2 separate regions of the Homo sapiens genome follow, and region 1 is linked to region 2. Evidence: fine-mapped QTL for protein levels in blood plasma. Region 2 holds a variant in brackets. A gene starts in the other region. All regions are shown on their forward strands.

Region 1 (5,380 bases), not on the chromosome of region 2:
AATTTTAAAACCTTCACCATTCTCTAAACCCATGACCATGAAAGACATTACTAATTAATCAAGGACTTTCTTGAACCAGATCTTCAGCTGCAAACCCCTGAATCATCAATTCACCAATGAATTAACTTGATTTCAACAAGAAGTTTCACGGTTACCAAGGAGGCAAGGCCCTTTCCACCTTTCCCACTGTCCAGCTCTCTATCCCAAGTCCGAACAGCAATCTCCAGCTAACTAATCTAACTAATTCCTGATGATCTTAGATGAAAGACTTTCATCCCAAATCCATCCATCTCCCCCACTTCCCTCCTCCCGTCCATGGAAAAAATGTCTTCCATGAATCCGGTCCCTAGTGCCAAAAGATTGGGGACCACTAAGGTAGAAAATCGGTTTTAAAGCATTCTTGGATAAAGTCCAACTAAGCACCGAGAGGTGTTCAGTTTCCAGCAACTGTGCGTTGAAGCCTCAATGTTCTCTTTTTTGGGTATCCATCTCATGAAGCAAATTCTTACAGGCAGCAATTGCTTTGAAAATTTTTTCAGTATTTCTTAACCCGAGGTTTTTAAAATGTACTAAGAGTCTTCATAATTCGATCCTCCTCCACTTCCAACTTTCCATCTTTCAACCTGTTTCTTTGTATTTCTCCTGAGAAAAGTTACATTTTCTAGACATTCATCAGGGTATGGCCTCTTTACAGGACCAGTATGAGTCACTACATAAATTATACACATATATATTTATAAATTATCTAAAATCTAAATAAATGTTAAAAATATATTTATAAGTCTAGCCCTTTGAGCTTTGTCCTGAAATATTATTTTTAGGAGCCTGACAGTGTGTTTATTTATTTAGCCAATGAATACGTTACCAATAAAGGTGAAACTGACTTTTCCCCTAAGGGGTTTCGTTTACCAGGAAAACGAACGTAAGTTGAGGATAGGGGTAGAATACAGGCCAGAATTTTGTTCTTGAAAGAGTAAGAGGACTTCTGGTTTTGAAAGCTAGAACTGAACTCAAGAATAATAAAGTGGAGATAACAGTACACATCTCGGTTTGGACAAAACGTAAGAGTGGACAGAATCAGGGAAGGCTGGCCTTCCTAAACATTGGAGCTTTCCAGGAGAGTCGGGGGAAAAGAGCACAGCTATGAAATCCTGTGAGAAATTCCAACAAACACCAGGAAAAAAGATACACTTCCTTGAGCAATATTACTCAACTCAGACTTATGTTTGATTCAGAATGAAAGAATTTTCTTTTCCAATAAATTAAATCATGATAATGGCATCTTTCATGAATTTAAAAATGTGTTAAATAGTATCAGCTATCTAGAACATAGTGAGGCGAACACTAAATCGGCATCCCTTGCAGTTTCCTTGGTTTCAGGAAAATCATTATTTGTGCTCAGCTAACTGGTCCCTTCCAGAGTTTTCATGCTAGACTCAAATCTAAGTATTTATTATAAATATTATAAAATATAAATTATATTATATTTCGTATAATAATATGAAAAGGAAATTAAATGCTTCTCTTTTCTTCAACTCAGTCTCCGCCAAGGCAGGAAGAACTTTTAAAGTGGTGCGTTAGTTTAAGGAGAATCATAAACCATCAGGATTCTTTAATCTGGCTAAAGACAGGCTCTTTGTTTCTAACTTCTGATCACTAGCGCCCTCCTCGGGAAAAAAAAACACGACAGGTTTCTTCCACCAACAGGCTGCTCCCTGTTTCTGGTTCTCATAAAAGAGAAATAGAAGAGCTTTGGAAGCCAGTGGCAACGATAGAGGGGATTGCTAAAAGGGGGTGCTTCTTCCCACCAAGGACACTTTGGACGTATCTATGGATTTATTTGGGTGCGTCCCAAAAATCCATAGCGACAAATCTCTTCTGGAAAATCAAGTCTTTTGGTTAGCAAAGGCATGGGGGAGTGACACCATGGCACAAGGAGAGGGGAGAGAGAAGCTGGCTTTTGCACCCGCAGCTCAGGGCCCCAGACGCATCGCAGAGCCACGGGTGCCCACGAGCAGGGTCAGCTCTCGGGGGCCCTCTTCCGCAGCCCAGACCCGGGACAGGAAGTGAGGGAGCAGGGACAGATCCCGGGGAGGCGCGCGCTCGGTACCCGGAAGGCGGCGGCTTCACGCTCGCGGCTCCGCGGCCAGGTCGGGGTGAAGGGGGCGCGGGAGTCCGCATCGCCGCCGCCCCGGCACAGCAGCCACAGCAGCCACGGCAGCCACGGCAGCGCCCGCACGTCCATTGCGGCGCCCGGCTCCTCTGCCGCCCGCGCGGCCTGTTTTCTCTTTCGGTTCCTCGGCTCCTCCCAGCCTGGGCTCGAGGGGCGGAAGGAGCTGGGTTGAGTGCACGATGCTGAGATTGACCCTTTTTTAGGTCCCCGGTGTTCTGTGACTGAAAATCCGGTCAGCTGGAGGCTACGGACCTCCTTGCTGAGGCTAGTTTTTTTGTTTTTGTTTTTGTTTTGGAAGAGTCAGGCACTTGACCATGTGCTTTCGAGGTTTCACTTCCATCCATTAGAAAAAAAGAAGCCTGAGAGTCATTCTTTTGTGTGTGTTGAGATCAGGTCTCACTGCAGCCTCGACCTTCAGGTTCAAGTGCCTCCTGCCTCAGCCTCCGGAGTACCTGGGACTACAGGCGCGTGCCACCACCCCAGGCTATTTTTGTATTTTTAGTAGAGATAGGATCTTGCCATATTGCCCAGGCCGGTCTCGAACTCCTGGACTCTAGTGATCCACCCGCCTTGGCCTCCCAAAATGCTCACAGGTGTGAGCCACCTGGCCTGCCCTGTGAGCCACCGGAAGCTGCCTTTTTCCTTCTTGCCACAATCCCTAAGTTCAAGACCTAGTTCTGAAGTGATGTGGGCCAATACATAGAGTCATCCATTCAGCAGATGTTTATAAATACGTAACAAAATTGTACAGATGTGAAAAGCATACACAGTTTTTGGATCTATTATGGCAGTTTCAAAACTCTTGAAGCCTGTTTCTCCGTTTGCAAAGGAAGATAGAGCCAAGTACATAATTTGCAGGGTTCCGTGTAAACTGAAAATGAAGTTCCCTTGTTCATAAATTGTGAAGAATTTCAAGACGGCAACAGCAGAGCATTAACCCAAGCCATGGGCCTTCTAAGCACCCACTTCTGCACAGGTCACACACTCATGAACCTGGCTCTACCGAGCCTTTCTATTATCATCTATTCTGAACAAGGCTTCCATGTCTGTGAAATTCATATCATTACCCTTGTAGATTTTTAGAACTAACATCAGATTTATGTCTTTAGTTTTTACCTAGGTGCAGTGAGTTACAATATTCTCCAATGCAAACTTCGTAATAAAAATAAAAATAATGTTCCGAGTATTAAGAGGAAAGACACAAGAGTTTTTTATGTACGTTCATGATAAGATATATTGCTCTTGGCAAGTGTGGTGATAAAGATTTTATTTAAATCATAAGTTCACAGAACGATGTTCATGTTTACCTCAGCAGTTCTTTTGTACTTAGCCCTTTTTTGTGACTCATACAAGCACATACTTTTCTTTTTAAACTGAACTTTGCTTTCAGATCATAGTCCCTGTTTATTGACAACCTACGGAGTCAGGAAATTTAAATATAGGCAGTCATCTTTACTTTAGGATAATTGGTATTGTAAAAAAGCCCCTTGAACTAAACTCATTTCAGGAGCTCACATCAAGTATTTATTGAGTACCTGCTAAGTGTCAGGCATTCTTCTAGGTAATGAGGATATATCAAGTAAGTGGATAAGTGACTAAAGGGATGAAAATCCCCATCCCTATGGGACTGATATTTCAATTGATTTACATCAACAAATATTTTATTGAGTACTTCCTAAGTGTCAGGCATTGTTCTAGGTCATCAGGACACATCATGGATGGAAGTGCATAAGTGACTGAAGAGATGAAAAGCCCCACCCTGTTGAAGCTGGTATTTCAGTGAGGGGGAGAGACGCAATAAAATTACTACAGGTTGAGGATCCCTTATCCACAATGCCTGGGTCTGGAAGTGTTTCAGATTTCAGATTTTTTCCCCCCAGATTTTGGAATATTTGCATATACATAATGAGATCTCTTGGGGATGAGACCCAAGTCTAAACACAAAATTCATTTGTGTTTCACTTATGCTACTGACTGAAGGTAATCTTACTGACTATTTTAGGTAATTTTATGCATAAAACAAGGCTTTGAATGCATTTTGACTATGACCCACCACATGAAGTCAGGTGTGAAATTTTCTAGGTGTGGCATGATGTCAGTACTCAATAAGTTTTAGATTTTGGAGTATTTTGGGTGTTTGGATTAGAGATGCTCAACTTGTACATGTGTTAAAGGACAATAAATCCAGATAAGGAGCATCATCAGTGTGAGGGGTGGTACTGCTATTTTAAATAAGCTGTTCAATACTGTCCTCACTGATGAGGAGAGTTTTGAGCAAAGATTTGAAGGAGAAGAAAGTGAGCCACATGGATATTCAGATATCCAGGGAAAGAGAAGCTAAGACAGAAAGAACTGTCAACACAAAGGCCTTGAGATGGAAGTTTGCTTGGCACGTTCCAGAAACATAAAAGACGTCAGCATGGATGGAGTAAAGGAAAAAAAAAAGGATGGGGGAGAGTAGAATATGAGATAAGTAAGAAGCGCACAGATTGTGAAGAATTTTGGGTCAGTTAAAAGGGAGATCAGAATCATCTATTAAGTAGTAAAACAAAGTTTTTGAAAAGTGGCTTGAAAAGTGAAGGTGGCAAGTATCTGCTAATTCTTAGAATAAACACTACAAATTACATGTATATGTAGAGATGTGTTTTTTTCATCAAATTTGCAAAATAGCACATGGAACTTCCCTCAACTCTGTATTAGATATCTATTGCCATGTAAAATATAACCCTCAAACTTAGCATCTTAAAAATACGAATTTTTCTTATCTTAAACAGTTTCTGTGGACCAGGAGGGAGCAGCTTATCTGGGTGGTTCCAGCTCAGAGTGTCTCATGAGGACGCAGACAAGCTGTTGCATATGGCTGCAATCTTCTGAAGGTTTCCCAAGTTTAAAGGATTCAATTTCAAGCTCATGTGGCTGTTAGCAAGAGTCCTCAGCTCCTCTTAGGCCTTTGGACAAAATCCTCAGAACCTTATCAGAAGGCTGGGCTTTTCCTGCCAGCTCTTTGTTCCTGCAGAATGAGTGAATAGAGAAATTGAGACAGTGGACCAGGGAATGACTGAGGTGGGAGCAGCAGTGTCTTTTTATAACCTTATCTTGAAACATATCATCTCTTCTGCCATTGGTTACACAGAGCCAGTCTGGTAAGATGTGGGAGGTGGAGCTGACATAAGGTGGGGTCATCAGGTGCCATCTTGGAGGCCCGCT
Region 2 (5,380 bases):
ACTCCAGTCTCTCTCCCCAGTTTAGCAAGACTGCTGTGGAATGCTTTGGTTAAAACTCTTTGCCCTTAAGTCTAGGAAGGGTAATTATGGGGTTGATCTTATTTGTTTCCCTTTCTAAACTATCTCAGGTTGTACTGTCTGCTGTTCAACATGTGCAAACAGTTTTTCCATATTATTCATACTCACTTATGGCAAGAGGCCAGTTTTTGTCAGACATGCATTTTTTTGTCCATGTACCTGCCCATTTTAATCACCACATCTGTTTACTTCCTGACTCTCATCTGCATTCCTGCTTTTACTCTGCCTGACAACCCATATCCCTTCAGAAAACTGGTGCTTAGAACCCAGTGTGTTCATACAGGCTAGTACTCATATATAAATATATGCACTCATTTCTATTTTCTTCTTCTTCTTCTTCTTCTTCTTCTTCTTCTTCTTCTTCTTCTTCTTCTTCTTCTTCTTCTTCTTCCTCCTCCTCCTCCTCCTCCTCTTCCTCTTCCTCTTCTTCTTCTTCTTCTTCTTCCTCTTCTTCTTCTTCCTCTTCTTCTTTTCTTCTTCTTCTTCTTTTTTTTTTTTTTTGAGATTGAGTCTTGCTCTGTCACCCAGGCTGGAGTGCAGTGGCATGTTCTCGGCTCACAGCAAACTCTGAATCCCAGGCTCAAGTGTTTCTCCTGCCTCAGCCTCCCAAGTAGTTGGAATTACAGGTACCCACCACCATGACCGGCTAATTTTTTAATTTTTCGTAGAGATGGGGTTTTGCCATGTTAGCCAGGCTGGTCTTGAACTCCTGACCTCTGGTGATCTGCCCGTCTTGTCCTCCCAAAGTGTTGGGATCACAGGCCTGAGCCACTGCACCCAGCCTGAATTTGTTACTTCTGATTCGTGTCAAAAATGGCAAACACAAATTTCACTTCAGGGAATGGAGGATAGAATGATAGAATTGCATGGTTGAAAGACTGCATGGACCTTTAGTGGGCATTGTGGAATGATACTTTGTCTCAGCATTTGGTCATTTGATCTCCTTAGCTTTACATTAATGAGACTTCACCACCTCCATATATCCTGCTGCTTCCATCAAATTGTTATGAAAGATAGCAATCCTAAAACTTCTCTTCATTCAGACCTTTTGCTCAAAAGTAAGTTTCCTGAGACATTTTGCTACAAACTCTGAGTCTATGAGAAATTTGGACCTAGGAAGTGAGCTTGTAGCATGGGCCAGCTAAGAGAAATTTTAGTTGACTATTGTTCCTTTTATGGCTAACATGATAGACATACGCATTTGGATAGTATAATGGGATCCTCCGATGCCAATGTGGTGTCATAGACGACCAAGACTGACATGTTCTTCCTGTGATAGTGGTGGAGAGTGTGCCTCGATAACTCTGTCCATCACCTCGGTAGCAGTCCTGGACCCCAGTGCTGTTTTCAGTTGGTGCTGAAATTAAAAGAGAAAATCAAGCTCAGTATTGCCTAGAAAAGGGAAATGTGAAAAAAATTATGACACACAAAGTGGAATAATCTGAGGATTAACAATTTACACTCTTCTATATTAGCATGCAAATTGAAATGTAGAATAAAAATACAAATAGACTTATAGGATTCTAGAAATTTAATAAGTAGTCATAAATATTTTAATTCAACCCTGGAAAACAAACAAACAAAGAAACAAACAAAAAACAGATCAGAGTGCCTATACTTCAAAATTACACTCATGTGAATGGTCTTTTGCTTACACCTCTTCTGGGTGTTCATGAGAACAAGGCAGGAGACCAGGGTGCCATGCATCAAGCTGTTCAGGCTATAGGTGGTGATTGGCTGTTAGTGGGGGGTATACATGAAACCCTTGCACACTAGACCACTGCTCCTCCAAAGCAAAAGCCTTCAGATTCTGGGGTGTGGGGCAGAAAAGGATCTTGCATCTAGGACTTGTAGGTAAAGACACATTGCCTCTCAGGGAGAAGGAGTACAGGCCAAAATTTTATAGCCTAGGAGGGGAGACAGGGAATCTTGGGCCCAGGATCCCTCATTACAAGAAAGCTGACATCCACTACTCTTCTTCTCAAAAAACAACGGAGATAAATGTTCCATGAGAAGCAGGGATGAGAACACTGAGAAATCCCTTCCCTCAAATCCTAGGTGTGGAAGGCATGCCCAAGATGAAGGTAGGCTGGGGAGATAAACAATTTGGTGGCTATGTACTGCTTCAAAGTCTCAGGACAATACGGATCTAATGAAGACATGTTAGGTTTCTCAAGAACAACAGCCTCAAAAATGGCATTCCTTCAAAATGGTAAAGCTGAAGACTGCAATAAACACTGCCTACTTGAAGAAAGGGCTGGACAGGCTTAGGAGCTTGGTATATCTTCACAAGTTTGGCAGGATGTTAGAATATCCATCTTGGCTAGGACACTAATATGATTCGTTTGATAACAGGGAAGTGATAAATCCAGTGTCCTAGAGGGTCTGTGCCCCTTTTAAAGACACCATCCCTCACAAGGCACTCAACATCCCAGCTCTGGTCCCCCCAGAGAAGGCACTGAAGCTTCCTTCCCATTGGCTGTCCATGACTTCACCTTCGACTTCCTGTGCAGCATGGAAGTTTTCTGCATCACAAAGATTTTGCAAATCTTTTTATCCCAATGTCCGAGGGTATGGTTGTCTGACTGCAGGCTTCTTACCTTCTTCAGAAGGAAGCTCTGTGCTTGGAACTGGGACCACCGTGGGAGTTGTGAGGAGAGTTGATTCCATCACTGGACATTGCGTCAGGTTGCAGTACTCCCATCTGACACTGGGATCCATGGTATAACACCAAGGGCGAATCTCAGCATCTGGATTCCTGCAGTAGTTCCTGGTCAGGCCACTGCAAATTCCAAAACAATACAGGTCACCAGAGATTGGAGAAGATACAGCACCACCTGGCACCCTCTATGTTTTCTTGTAACAAAGTGTAAACAAG[C/G]AAATTTGAAATATTCTCACTAAAGTCCCATAACACTCACAAATGGTCCTCAACTTCTAAACAACTGTCAACATTTCAAAGACAGCTTATGATTCTTATTGTAACACATTCAAAGTAATCTATGCTTTATAAGAAAACTGAGAGAAAACATCAATGTGTACCAGAAAGGATCAGAATACCCTCCTTCTACCTTCTGCCAAATACATTCCTTTGGATTAACCGAGAGGGATTTTGAAGTGTGTCTTGGAGATTGTTTCACGTACATACAAATGTTTATCTGTCAGGCTGTCTGTAAGTCTCTATAAAACTGCATGATCTATTCAGTGTTTGATTTGCTGATTTGTTATTTACCTAAGCAATCCATCCACATGATCTACATTCATGAATTTATTTACATACAGTTGATCTCAATATCTACTTCTCAGCTTTCACACCTGGAGGATGCTATAGCAATGGCATCTCTCTCCTGTTACTCATGATGGTGATGGATATGCTCCCTCCTTGGTCTGTCATCTGTTTAGCCAGACTTTGGCCAATCATATAGACTTTTCAAAGAACCTAACTTTCTGTTTCATGGATTTACTCCTTTGTTGGTCTATTTTCTTTTCCACTGAATGTCATTGGTTTGGACTATTTCCTTCCATCCTCTTTCCTTGTGCCTTATTTGCTTTTCCTTGCCTAGATATTTAAGCTGTGGTCTTAGATCAACAGCTGTCAAAGCTGTTGTTCATAGGAACCCCCTTTTTTTCTTTTTAGCTTTGAATTGAGGCAACTTAACTATGATATATCCCAGTAAATCATAGAGTTTTGCTCTTTAAAATTCTATACCTGAGTCATTTAGCTTCTTGACTATGAGTTTCTTGTTTTCTGTATATTTGGCGTGTTGCGAGCCATCATCGCTTCAAGTATAATGTCTGTCATGATATCTTTTTCTTCTCCTTCTGTGACTTGCCTAACACATATATTAAATGTGTGGATTTTTCCTAGATGCCCTTGAGGCTCTGTTGATTAATAGGTTCAGTCTTTGTGTGTGTGTGTGTGTGTGTGTGTGTGTGTGTGTGTGTGTGTGTGTGTTTCTGTCTGTTGGTCTGTCTGTCTGTCCTGTGATTTGTGTAGCTCCTATTGAATTATTTTCTAGGTCACCTTTCCTACCGTAATGTCTAAAGTGATGATAAGGCCATCCAGTGAGTTCTTCATTAGAGATGTACCTTTTCTCAGTTCTTTAATTTTCATTTGGCTCTCCGGTTCTTTTCTTTTCTCTTGCTATTCTGCTTTTGTTTCTCTCATGGTCAGCTTTTGCTGACATTTTCCTGAAACACAGTTCTCAGAGGTGCATTTTAAATGTTCTCACCAATGTCATCAATTCTATAATTTCTGGGCCTGTTTGTGTTGAGTGATTTTTTCTCCCAGTTATGTATCACAGTGAAAGCTTCTTGTGTCTCTATTAAATTTTTAAATAGAAGTAACGCAATAGGAATGCCATATAACTGAGCAACTTGTATTTGTCCCTTGCCTCTAAGGGGGGTTGAGTTTTTTTTTTCTTGTGGAATGCAGTTAATTTACTTGGAGATCATTTGGATCCTTTTAGACTGGCTTGGAAGAAGGGTTGTTGGAGTTTTTCTGGAGTCACCTTGATTCTAGGAATAAGATGATCCCAATCCCAAAATACAGCTTTCTTTGGTCTCTACTGAATGCCCAAAATGTAGTGAGGTGTTTCTCCTCTGAGTGGTCAGAATTCAAATATCCCCCAGTGCTATGTGAGCTCTGGCATCTCCATTGAGCTTACTGTTCCCCTGCAGTTGTTCTTTCCCAAGTAGCTTTTCTTTGTTGTTCTTTCTTTATGAAAACTCTCCCTGTGCATACGCAGCTTTGTATTTAGCCAAAGCCTTGAGGAGACTTCTGTGTGTATTCCTGGAGCTCCTTTCTTCCACAAATCCCTTCTCATTCTTAGCCAGCCTAGAACACATCAGCTGCCTGAGGCATCGCAGACTCCAGTCTCTCTCCTCAGTTAAGCAAGACTGCTGTGGTCAGCTGGGCTCCATCTGCTTGTCCTTCAATCCAACACTGTGTCCAGGAAGGAAGACAGGTTAATGATGAAGTTGATCTCCTTTGATTCCCTTTCTCAGTTCTCTCAAGCCTACCATATCTGTTGTCCAACCTGTGAAAACTGTTTTCTCATGTATTTGATAGTCCTTCATGGCAGAAAGGCTGGCATAGCCAGACATGGGTTTCTGTCCATCTTCCTGAATGTGTAACTCTTCAGCATCTCTATACTTCCTGACTCTCAGCTGCCTTCCTCCTTTTGCCCCTCATGGGCTGGCAACACATAGCTTTTCAGACACCTTGTTCTCAGAACCCAATGTGTTTATACAGGTTAGAGGAGAAAGTGATCGGAAGATCTCGAAGTCAATATAGATATCCTTC

Direction of the effects. Alleles are on the strand shown, and positions count from the first base shown. The strength of an association depends on the size of the effect and on how common the allele is.
For the plasma level of the protein whose gene starts at base 2,264 in region 1, allele G in region 2 goes with a higher level than allele C (weak association).

What was found. PIP is the posterior inclusion probability: the model's chance that the variant is causal. Protein levels are from antibody-based Olink assays in UK Biobank. Linkage for the fine-mapping came from a reference panel and not from the study's own genotypes, which makes the PIPs less certain.
Region 1: it holds the start of CTSO, and the variant in region 2 is fine-mapped to the plasma level of the CTSO protein (UK Biobank, PIP above 0.99).

What each region holds. Positions count from the first base shown.
Region 1 is chr4:155,951,603-155,956,982 of GRCh38, forward strand. It overlaps CTSO (cathepsin O), which reads right to left and starts at 2,264. Exons shown (of 8, transcript NM_001334.3): 1 at 2,111-2,264. The coding sequence starts at 2,245. RefSeq lists an enhancer at 3,375-3,669.
Region 2 is chr6:160,583,771-160,589,150 of GRCh38, forward strand. It overlaps LPA (lipoprotein(a)), which reads right to left. Exons shown (of 39, transcript NM_005577.4): 25 at 2,679-2,860; 26 at 1,276-1,435. Among named protein-coding and RNA genes, the nearest start is that of LPA, 78 kb to the right of the region's middle. The variant C/G (reference allele first, on the strand shown) is at 2,957.